Homo sapiens: one gene and its partners. The protein of the gene in region 1 interacts with the protein of each later gene in a pairwise test. Each region holds a gene or a part of one and is shown in the gene's direction. Other genes may lie near its edges. The genes, in order: PRKAB2, TNNI1 and CFAP68.

Evidence for each region.
Region 2: the proteins of PRKAB2 (region 1) and TNNI1 interact in binary tests that used the Homo sapiens proteins (3 or more experiments, as listed by UniProt).
Region 3: the proteins of PRKAB2 (region 1) and CFAP68 interact in binary tests that used the Homo sapiens proteins (3 or more experiments, as listed by UniProt).

What each region holds. Positions count from the first base shown.
Region 1 is NC_000001.11:147,158,925-147,162,575, reverse strand, and holds part of PRKAB2 (5'-AMP-activated protein kinase subunit beta-2), read left to right. Parts: intron 1-2; coding exon 3-136; intron 137-795; coding exon 796-864; intron 865-1,742; coding exon of another isoform or gene 1,743-1,779; intron 1,780-2,933; coding exon 2,934-3,011; 3' UTR 3,012-3,651. UniProt on the Homo sapiens protein: Non-catalytic subunit of AMP-activated protein kinase (AMPK), an energy sensor protein kinase that plays a key role in regulating cellular energy metabolism.
Region 2 is NC_000001.11:201,411,633-201,415,283, reverse strand, and holds part of TNNI1 (troponin I, slow skeletal muscle), read left to right. Parts: intron 1-29; coding exon 30-71; intron 72-634; coding exon 635-766; intron 767-2,162; coding exon 2,163-2,252; intron 2,253-3,651. UniProt on the Homo sapiens protein: Troponin I is the inhibitory subunit of troponin, the thin filament regulatory complex which confers calcium-sensitivity to striated muscle actomyosin ATPase activity.
Region 3 is NC_000011.10:111,882,449-111,886,199, forward strand, and holds the end of CFAP68 (cilia- and flagella-associated protein 68), read left to right. Parts: coding exon 1-150; intron 151-687; coding exon 688-754; intron 755-1,322; coding exon 1,323-1,432; 3' UTR 1,433-3,527; downstream 3,528-3,751. UniProt on the Homo sapiens protein: Microtubule inner protein (MIP) part of the dynein-decorated doublet microtubules (DMTs) in cilia axoneme, which is required for motile cilia beating.

The sequences.
Region 1 (3,651 bases):
AGACCTTTCCAGCTCACCCCCAGGGCCTTATGGTCAAGAAATGTATGCGTTTCGATCTGAGGAAAGATTCAAATCCCCACCCATCCTTCCTCCTCATCTACTTCAAGTTATTCTTAACAAAGACACTAATATTTCTGTGAGTATCCTGAGTATTACTGGGGCATCTGGGGGTGTCTAGGACCATTTGGACCAAAGTTCAGTAATCCTAGAGGTTAGGATTACTACAGAGGTGTGTTGAGATTATAAGTCATACACATACCAATAACATTACAGATTTCCTTTTTCCAGTGGTGAGTCACAGCTTTTTCAGGTACTGATATAAAAATTCATAGTTGTCTCCTCATCCTAATAAAATCAGGATCAGAGCTATGGACTTCTTTTGAGCACAACATAAAGGAGTAGTTATCATTTGGGGGTGTACAAAAGAACTATGAAAGCTTTTTTGTATATAATTCATGTCTCTATTCAATCTACTTGATTCCTACTATGATTGTTTTTGCCTTGTAACACAACTCTTCCTTGTGTGTTGTGGGCAAGATTTTTGTTTTAGCTCTCTTAAGGAAGATTAGTAGATGCTGAGGCATGAGATTTCTGCCCTGGACTGATAATTTTTCTAATTTTCTGTAATAGGATTGTATTATTGATACATACTAGAGTGGGTGCATTATTGAAAAGAGATAGCGCATTCTAGTTTAAATTTCTCAAAGAGCTCTGAGGAAGAGTAAGCTGTTTGGTTTGTCTGTGCATTAATTTCATTTAGTAATTTTTTTAGTAATTTTTTTCTCTTTCTCTTAGTGTGACCCAGCCTTACTCCCTGAGCCCAACCATGTTATGCTGAACCATCTCTATGCATTGTCCATTAAGGTAAGTGGTGGCCCTGGCTCTTCACAGAGCTCCCTGGAATGAGAGGTCAAGGGTAACATACGTTCTCAGTGGTTACTTTCTCTGCTATTTCATTGAAGCTGAAGCTGGCAGTAATGATCAAATTATAGAAGAACTCTCTTTTTTTTAACTACTAGGTTGTTTGTTTTAAAATCTCAGTCTCTGTGTTCTGGCTGGCTGAATTGCCCTCTGATAGGACTTTTTTGCTGCCCAGTTATTTTTTGGGTGACTAGAATCTTTACACTAACTGTTTACTTAAGTTTGTGTTCATAGCATAGGATTTCTTCTGCAGAAAAAGCAGGTTTAGCTTCCAGTTCAAAGAATGCTTGAATGTGATATTAAGGCTTTCATTTTTTGAAGGTGGAATTGAGCTACTTTCAGGTGCCTCATTCATATATACTCAGGTGCTTGCATCTCTCCTATACACTAGTTAAAGGAGAGATGTGACCAGATTTGCCCTGTCCCGTCAACTCTAGAGTCCTCCTTGGTTTTTCTGCTGCTTTAGAGTCTGGGTTGGAAATAGCCATTCTGTTCTGTCTTGTTATGTCTTTGTGGTTTGGCTATTGGAATAAAGTTATATAGCTCTGCAGTTATCAAACCAGGCTGATTATCATTAGAGTCTCCTGGAGAAGATTGTAAAAATACAGATTCAGCAGCTCCATTCCTAGAGATTCTGAATAAGTGCATCTAGGATGGGCCCTATAATTTTTTTAAGCTGCTTTTACTTGGATATATAGCTGGATTCGGGAAATCACTGATATAGCTAACAAACTATGTGGTACAATATAACACTTAAAAATATATTATTGAATTTAATTTTTATAATAACGTTGTAAGTATTTTTAACTCCTGTTTTATAGATAAAGAAACTAAGGCTCAGAGAAGGTCAAATTGCCAGTAAGTACCAGAGACAGGACTGCTGAGGTCCAGTCCTCCTATGCTGACTTCATATTCTTTCCTATATTATCATTATGCCAGGTCTTTCCAAGTAGGTTTTTCTCAGGTATTCCTCATTTCCACAAAACCTGTGGAAGTGTAAAAGTGAATTGTTTACCTGCCTTGCTTCTGTCGTATTTAGGCTTTGTGTCAGCATGACTCTGGAGTGTTAACCCGAGAAGCATTCATGGTGGATAATACAGTACGGGGGAAGGTAGAAGGATACACTTGTTCTTAATCGGATTTGCTTGGGTTCTTTGGGATCTGATGGATTTTGCCTCCTGTAACTGCTCCTTGGATGTCATTTAATTTGCCTAGGCTTGCCATCTCCTCCTGTGGTACATCTGTAGTCTACAACACAGCCTGGGAAATGGTACCTCTTGCTGTCTTCTTACTGGTTCTGACTCAGGTGAAGGTGTTTGATTATTGTGGCTTAGCTTGGTTCTGACCCATTCCTGATTCTCTCATATTGTTTAGGCAGTTTGGAATTGATCCATTGGATTGGGTGTCTTTCTGAAGAGGATTTTGACATCTACTTTGTTCAAGGATAGAGAGGGATTCCTAGGTTCCCTCTAAATCAGAGAGATCTTTTGGAAGTCATCCCTGGTTTTAAATGAAAATTAGACCTGCTTTGGGACTTGGAAATAGTTTTTCAGAAGGATTGTTTCTTTTTTTCCTCATTGTCTTTAAGACTTTCTTCTAGAAATGGATGCCAGAATATTTTGTTCTTTTTTGTTTTTCTTGCTAGTTTTAGGCCCAACATTAGAATTTAAAGTAGGGAAGGGAGCAAGGTAGGAGACTATTATTTCTTCAGCCCTTTTATGTGTCAGAAACTGTGTCAGATATTCTCATGTAATCATCAGAGCAACCTTAATGGTAGGTGTTATCTTTTGTAATGATGAGATAAAAAGACTTGGACACACTAAGTAGATTACCCAAGGCCACAAGTAGAATGATGATAGGAGTCAGAATTGGAACTAAAACTTATTTGACCTCCTGCTCTTATATCAAACTATCTCTGTTAAAAGTGAGTGACTGTGAAGGACTGATGACTGGGAAGAGCTACCTACTGTCTGAAGTAATGAATTAGCTGCGTATGTTTCTTTTCCTTGCAGGACAGTGTGATGGTCCTTAGCGCAACCCATCGCTACAAGAAGAAGTATGTTACTACTCTGCTATACAAGCCCATTTGAAGGGATCCCTTCTTGCCTCTAAGGATTCAGGAGAAGCATCTCCCTTGCATTTCTGGACTGAACCAGTCTTACCTGAGACTGGAAGGCTGATTTGCTTTGAGGCTGATATGTGTGTTTCAGAGCCTCTGAGTAGGATGCTCTGCTTTTGCATTTGATTGCAGATGAGAGCTTTATGAGTTCACGGAATTTATTTTAAGAAAAAAAAATATACATATGAGAAGAAGGTAAATGGAAGCCTCCTAGCCCCAGCTAGAAGTATTGTTTCTGCCTGTGGGTTTTCACCAAGACCTGTTTGGGGGCGCTGCAGGAATAACTATATAGGAAGATTTTTCCTAAAATGAAAGAACAGCAAACTCTTAGGATCCTTGTTGGGTGGAGATTCTATCACTGCTACCTTGGCTCTCCAAGGAATGGGCTTGTGCTAGACCGCTGCCCTACTTAACAGCTGCCTCATTGCAAGGGCAGTTTTTCTTGCATGGGTTCTCTATATTCCCAGAGTATGTGGCACAATCTGTGTTGTTTATATGATACCAGATGCCCCACAAGAACCCTTATTCCTCTCATTTCACATTCTTCCTTTAATAGCCTCCTTCAGATCCCATACCTGACCCCTCTCTAACACAAAACTTATTGGGTAAGT
Region 2 (3,651 bases), about 54 Mb from region 1:
CACCTGTCTCTCTCTCTTCTTGCCCACAGAGAAAACCCAAGATCACTGCCTCCCGCAAACTCTTGCTGAAGGTGAGGCTGGGGGCTGGCTGTGGGGGGATGCCCAGTGGGAGGCAGAGGGGCAGCAGAGCAGACTCTGAAGGGATGTGGAGGATTATGGCAAGGAGAAAGGAAGGAGGCCAGAGTGAGGATGATGAGGGGCAGGAGTCCAGCATTGCTGGAGCCAGTGCCAGGCTCAGGTGATCAGTAGGTGGGATCCTCGAGTATGGATTCTGGCATCCGCCTGTGGTCCCTAGAGTAGGTGGTGACCAGCTTCAGAGTGGGAAGCTACTCATGCAGGCAGAGGGACTTCCTTTATTTTCATATGTGTTTCTCTCTTTGGAGTTTTGTGGGTCAAAACAGACAGTAAGTGGATAAGAGGAAGACTGTCCGGGGAAAACAAGTTCCAGGGCTTGAGGAACATTGTGTGCAGCCACTGGGTGTACCCTCATGGTGGCCTGTCCATGGCTGCTGCATACACTTCTACACTGGACAGTGGTCTCAGAGTTGGCCCAGGCTGTGGCTGCCCTCCCCTCATTCCCTGATGCCGGGTGGGAGATGTGAGGCCCCCAGCTCAGCAGGTGTGTCCTGTCCAGAGCCTGATGCTGGCCAAGGCCAAGGAATGCTGGGAGCAGGAGCACGAGGAGCGCGAGGCTGAGAAGGTGCGCTACCTGGCAGAGCGCATCCCCACGCTGCAGACCCGTGGCCTGTCCCTCAGTGCCCTGCAGGTTAGCCTGGCAGGTGGGGCGGGGCAGGGTGGGGCTGGAGGTGCTGTGTGGGTGGCTCCAAGGACCAGGCGGCAGGAGCCTGAACTAACACCAGCTCAAGGCTCCATAATTTACAGGGCACTCCTCCCTTACATGGTCTCATTTAATCTTCACAACCACCTGTGAGGTGGGAACATTAGATTCCATTTTACGGGCACTGAACTGAGCATCAGAGGGGAGGCGTGACTTGCCTGGGCTGGGCGGCCCAGCTTCACAATCAGCCAGTGTGGTGGCATGGAGTGGGGAGGCGGCCGGGGTTGGGAGAAGCCCCACTTTTCCAAGGACTTGTCTACCCTTTCCTAGAATTTGGTCTTCAATGTTTTCAGAACACTGGTAAATTGGTTAAATGCCAGTGATTATAGAGAAAAGAGACTGGAAGGAAGTATATCAAAATGTTACTAAGTATCCCTGGGTGGTGGCATCACTAGGTATTTTAATTTTTATTATTTTTGTTTAATACATAGTTTTCAAAATGTCTAAAATTAACGCATTACTTTTATCATAAGAAAACTATTTTATTTTGCTGGGCACAGTGGCTCATGCCTGTAATCCCAGCATTTTGAAAGGCGGAGGCAGGAGGATTACTTGAACCCAGGAGTTCGAGACCAGCCTGGGCAACATAGTGTGAGACCTTTTCTTTATACAAAGTTTAAAAAAATGAGATGGGAGGGTCACTTGAGCCCAGGAGGTTGAGGCTGCAATGAGCCATGATGAAAGAATACTTTTTTTTTTTTGAGGCAGAGTCTCATTCTGTTGCCCAGGCTGGAGTGCAGTGGCGTGATCTTGGCTCACTGCAACCTCTGTGTCCCAGATTCAAGTGATTCTCCTGTCTCAATCTACTAAGTAGCTAGGACTACAGGTGCACACCACCATGCCTGGCTAATTTTTGTATTTTTAGTAGAGACAGGGTTTCACCACATTGGTCAGGCTGGTCTTGAACTCCTGACCTCAGGTGATCCCCCACCTTGGCCTCCCAAAGTGCTGGGATTACAGGGATGAGCCACCGTGCCCAGCCAAGGATACTAGTTTTTTGTTTGTTTGTTTGTTTTTTTGAGACGGAGTCTCGCTCTGTCACCAGGCTGGAGTGCAGTGGTGTGATCTCAGCTCACTGCAACCTCCGCCTCCTGGGTTCAAGCGAAGGAATACTATTTTTTAAGAAATCATGACATTCAGACAGGAGAACAGAGGGCATACCCTTTGAGCTATTGCCCGTCATGAGCCTCAGAGTGGAGGAGACTGTCAGCTCCTCTCTGGATCCCAGGTCTTGCAAAGGGGCTGGGGAGAGGGTCAAGGGCTGGAAACTGATGTCTCTGTTCCCCTCTTCTTCACACCTGCATGATCCATCTGCGGCCCCCAGGACCTGTGCCGGGAGCTGCACGCCAAGGTGGAGGTGGTGGATGAGGAGCGATACGACATTGAGGCCAAATGCCTCCACAACACCAGGGAGGTGAGTCTAAGGAAGGGAAGGGGCATGGCCATAATGGGTTGGGCAGGGGCATGGGCACGGATGCAGCAGCCATGGGAGGTCCCCTCCTTCCACAGGGCCTAGGAAGGGGCCACTTAAGCAGGAAACTTTGGTTTGTCTGCCCTAGCCCCATAGGGCTGGAGATGGGTAGAGTGGATAATCACACATGAAAAGTACAAACTTCCTCCCTACCTGCCATGTGGGCTCATCAGCCTAACAGAAGCTGCTCTCTTTATCCACCCACACAAATAATCATATGCCTGTTAATAACGTCTTACCTTTGTGAAGTGCTTTCATGTTCGTTATAGCCTTTGATCCTCCTTATAGGCCTGTGGATGAAGTAGGGGCTATTATCTGCACCTTGCAGAGGAGAACACTCAGGATCAGAGAGGCCAAAGACTTGTCCTAGGTTGCACAGTGGTGGTCCTGGGACCAGTGCTGGTCTCTGGCTTCCACTCCGGTGCTCTGTGCTCCCTTAGCATGGGGTGTGGGAGGATTAGCTCCACCCAGACCCTGCTCCAGTGGGGAGGGGCAGAGCAGAGAAGGACAGGGCTCCTTTGGGGCATTTGTCCAGGCAGTGAGGAGGGGGCAGGGAGGGAGCACAAGCCACTTCTCTCCTTCCCACTTCTGCCCACCAGGAATTATATGTGGGGTCACCAAGCTCCTAAGAACTCCCCCTAGAGATCACACCCTGGGAATTCCTCCAGGGGTCTAGGACCTGTAAGTTTATCACCCTGCTGGACCAAGGCTGTGAGCTGCTTTGAAGGCTCACTGGGGAGGAATAAGTTAGAAGCAGGGATGAGGCTGCAGGAACAAGAGGAAGCAGCCCTGCACTCCAAATAGGGCTTCCAAATCAGACAAGTCTCAGTCTGGTGGAGCCGCCCCTTTTATTCAAGGCTATAGTGTTAGCAACGGCTAATAGGCTTTATCTGTCCACTTAACCATCCGTTTATCAGCAAATGTGCAGTGGTTATTTGCAAAGGGATGGGTGGGTCTGACTGTCCTAGAGCAGGGATCTCCAACTCTTGGGCTGTGGACCAGTACCTGTCCGTGGCCTGTTAGGAACTGGGCCACACTGCAGCAGGTGAGCAGTGGGCAAATGAGCATTCCCGCCTGAGCTCTGCCTCCTGTCAGATCAGCGGCGGCATTAGATTCTCACAGGAGTGTGAACCCTATTGTGAACTGTGCATGTGAGGGATCTAGGTTGCACGCTCCTTATGAGAATCAAACTCATGCCTGATGGTCTGAGGTGGAACAGTTTCATCCTGAAACCACCCCACCACCTCTCCGTGGAAAAAGTGTCTTCCACAAAACCGGTCCCTGGTGACAAAAAGGTTGGTGACTGCTGATAGGTCTGGCTTCAAGGGTGGACAATTTAAGG
Region 3 (3,751 bases), on another chromosome or scaffold:
GATTGGAATAATATGTCCAAGTTTTTCCAGTATGGATGGCGATGCACCACTAATGAGAATACCTATTCAAACCGTACCCTGATGGGCAACTGGAACCAGGAAAGATATGACCTGAGGAATATCGTGCAGCCCAAACCCTTGCCTTCCCAGGTAATCTAACTTTGTCTTTTTTGTTTGTTTGTTTCCTTCTGTTGGCAAAAGAAATGTAGTGGCCATTTGAAATGCAGGGATGTAATAACTTCTGGTGCAGTGATCTCTCAGTTTTCAGTGAAGTGGTTGGGGCAGAGGAACAGTCCGCAGCTGAACCACCTATGCTACTTTACTGTCAAGTTGAATATTTTATTATCTGTAAGGTTTCAAAAGGAAGGGCAGTCCTCTTTTTCTCTTACTTCTGTTTGGACTTTATCTCTTAGTCTACAGAAATTTATAATGTCTTCTGACTTAGACTAGCTTTTCCCCTGGTCCTTGCCTATCTAGACTTGTCATTTATCTGAGTCTTGCACTTAAATCGCTCCTAAACAAACAAACGTACAAAACATGTGAAAGTTAGAAGGATATAGACTAACACCATAGAACTCAGTCCATCTAAAATATGACAGTCCGTGAGAATTCATGTCATATTGATCTTTATTTCCTGATGTTAGCTGTAGACTTCCAGATTCTTAATCTGTTAATTTTTCTTTCCAGTTTGGACACTACTTTGAAACAACATATGATACAAGCTACAACAACAAAATGCCACTTTCAACACATAGTACGTGGACTGTTTTTTCAAATTCTTACATTTTCAGAACCTAACTCAGTGACCGGCACATAGAAGGAACTCAAATAAAAGTAAACTGAATAGGTGAATAAGTGAGGCTGGGCGCAGTGGCTCACACCTGTAACCCCAGCACTTTGTGAGGCTGAGGCAGGCAGATCACTTGAGGTCAGGAGTTTGAGACCAGCCTGGCCAGCGTGGTGAAACCCCATCTCTACTAAAAAAAATACAAAAATTAGCTGGGCTTGGTGGCGCATGCCTGTAGTCCCAGCTACTCAGGAGGCTGAGGCAGGAGAATCACCTGAACCCGAGAGGTGGAGGTTTCAGTGAGCAGAAATCAAGCCACTGCACTCCTGCCTGGGTGACAGAGTGAGACTCTATCTCAAAAAAAAAAAAGAAAAAAAAGGTGAATAACTACATGAATGAGTAAACAGGATTTTTTCTTCAATTTTAACAGGACTTACTGTCTATTCCCTAGAAATAAGAGCAAGATCAGTTACTAAAACTCCTTAGTGTTGACTGTTTTCATTTGTCTTTCCTTCCTTTTTTTTTCTTCCCTCAGGATTTAAGCGAGAGCCTCACTGGTTCCCAGGACATCAACCTGAACTGGATCCTCCCCGATACAAATGCACAGAAAAGTCAACTTACATGAATAGCTATTCAAAGCCTTAAATTGGGCATCACTCAGGATGTGTATAAGATCTTAATATTGACTAGTTTCACATCCAGGTTTCTAAGAAATGATAAGATACTTCACTTTTCCAGAGTGAAATGTAGGAGGGAGCACATTCTAAGTACAGCTAAAAATTTAGCTCACTGTAACACAGTTTCACTCTCTGAATAAATAAAGCAAAAAACACAGTAAATATTCTTTATCCCTTTTTTTGTTGTTGTTTTAACCAAGATTTAAATGTCAAATTTAATACAGCAACTCAGTTCTACATTTGGGGTGTTGTAGAAGGGCCTTAAAAAGAATTATTTTAGGCCAGGCACGGTGGCTCATGCCTGTAATCCCAGCACTTTGGGAGGCCGAGGCAGGTGGATCACGTGAGGTCAGGAGTTCGAGACCAGCCTGACCAACATGGTGAAACACTGTCTCTACTAAAAACACAAAAATTAGCTGAGCATGGTGGCTCACGCCTGTAATCCCAGCTACTCAGGAGGCTGAGGCAGGGGAATCGCTTGAACCTGAGAAGTGGAGGTTGTGGTGAGCTGAGATCATGCCACTGCACTTTAGCCTGGGTGACAGAGCGAGACTCTGTCTCAAAAAAAAAAAAAAAAAAAGAATTATTTCTCTGAAGTCTACAACCACTGTGGTCTTCCCTTCCTTCTGTCGTAGCAAGACCTCAGAATCTAGCATAACTTAGGCTAGGTTTGGCTAGATGCTTTCTGGGTATAAGCCAGAGTCGTATAGTGCAACTTTGCTGTGACCTTAGTGAACATCCCCTCTTGAGGACTACAAAAACAAACGTAACTTTTTAAAATTATTATGGAGAATTTTACGTAAAACAAAAGTAGACAGGCTAGTCTAATGAACTCCCATGTATCATTACCCAGCATCAACTATTTATGACTAATCTTACCTACTTCTACTTTGTCTTATTGAATTAATTTTGGAGCAGATCTTAGAAATAGAATTTAATCTATAAAAATCTTGGTGGGCTGGGTGCGGTGGCTCATGCCTGTAATCCCAGCACTTTGGGAGGCTGAGGTGGGTGGATCACCTGAGGTCAGGAGTCCAAGACCAGCCTGGCCAATGTGGTGAAACTCCATCTCTTCTAAAAATACAAAAATTAGCTGGTCTTGGTGGCGGGCGCCTGTAATCCCAGCTACTTGGGAGGCTGAGGCAGGAGAATTGCTTGAACCCAGGAAGCAGAGGTTGCAGTGAGCTGAGACGGTGCCATTGCTCTCCAGCCTGGGCGACAAGAGCGAAACTCCGTCTCAAAAAAAAAAAAGAAAAGAAAAAGAAAAAAAAAATCTTGGTATACTGGCTGGGCACAGTGGCTCACACCTAATCCCAGCACTTTGGGAGGCTGAGGCAGGAGGATAGCTTGAGGCTGGGAGTTCAAAACCAGCCTGGGCAACATAGCAAGACCCCATCTCTACCAAAAAAAATTTTTTTAAAGATTTCAGTATATTTCTCAAAAAGATAAGGACTGTCAATTGTCTACTCCCCCCCAACAAAGGTCACTAAGGAAACCTGTTGACTAAACAAAGCTCATTAAACCTATTGTAGTGTAGCAAAGGAGACCATCAACTTGACACAGAGTCTTGGTAATGATTCAAAGGGAGGATGTTAGAGTAAGGTATTTATAAGGATTTGAGATAAGGGTCCAACTGGTTTAAAATGAGTCAAAATAGGGAACTAGTAGAGACTGAGAAAGGGTTGTGAATAGCTTAGGTTTGGTAAACTTAGGAAATCAACAGTCTTAATTTTAATATGGTTAAACTGATTAGTATTTCCTATTTTTTTATCTACTGTGTAAGAAGACACTATAATATATGGGCATTACTGAGAGATACTGCCCATATGTTGTCCTCGTAAGCAAGGAGATATTTTTTATCTCCCATATATTACCTCTCAAACCTTTGTTACTTTAGTTTCGAGATATAGATCCAGAATTTATGTTGTTACTCAGTAGTGAGGAAGTTTCTTTTTTTTTTCTAAATGGCTATCAAGTTGTCCCACCATTAGTTATTGAAAAGACCATAATTTTTTCACTCCTATTCAATGCCATTTTTATTGTAAATAAACTATGTACATGTAGGTCTGTTTCTGGGCTACTATGTTCTATTAGTTTAATTGTCATTCCTTGTATTATCTTAGTTATGATGCCTTAATTGCACCATCTTAATTATGATAATTTTATTACATTATTATTATTTTATATCTTAATACCTAATAGATCAAATGCTTTCGTCTTGTTTTCTTCAAGAATATTAGCTATGTTTGAACTTTTGCATTTCCATATAAAATTTAGAATCAGCTTG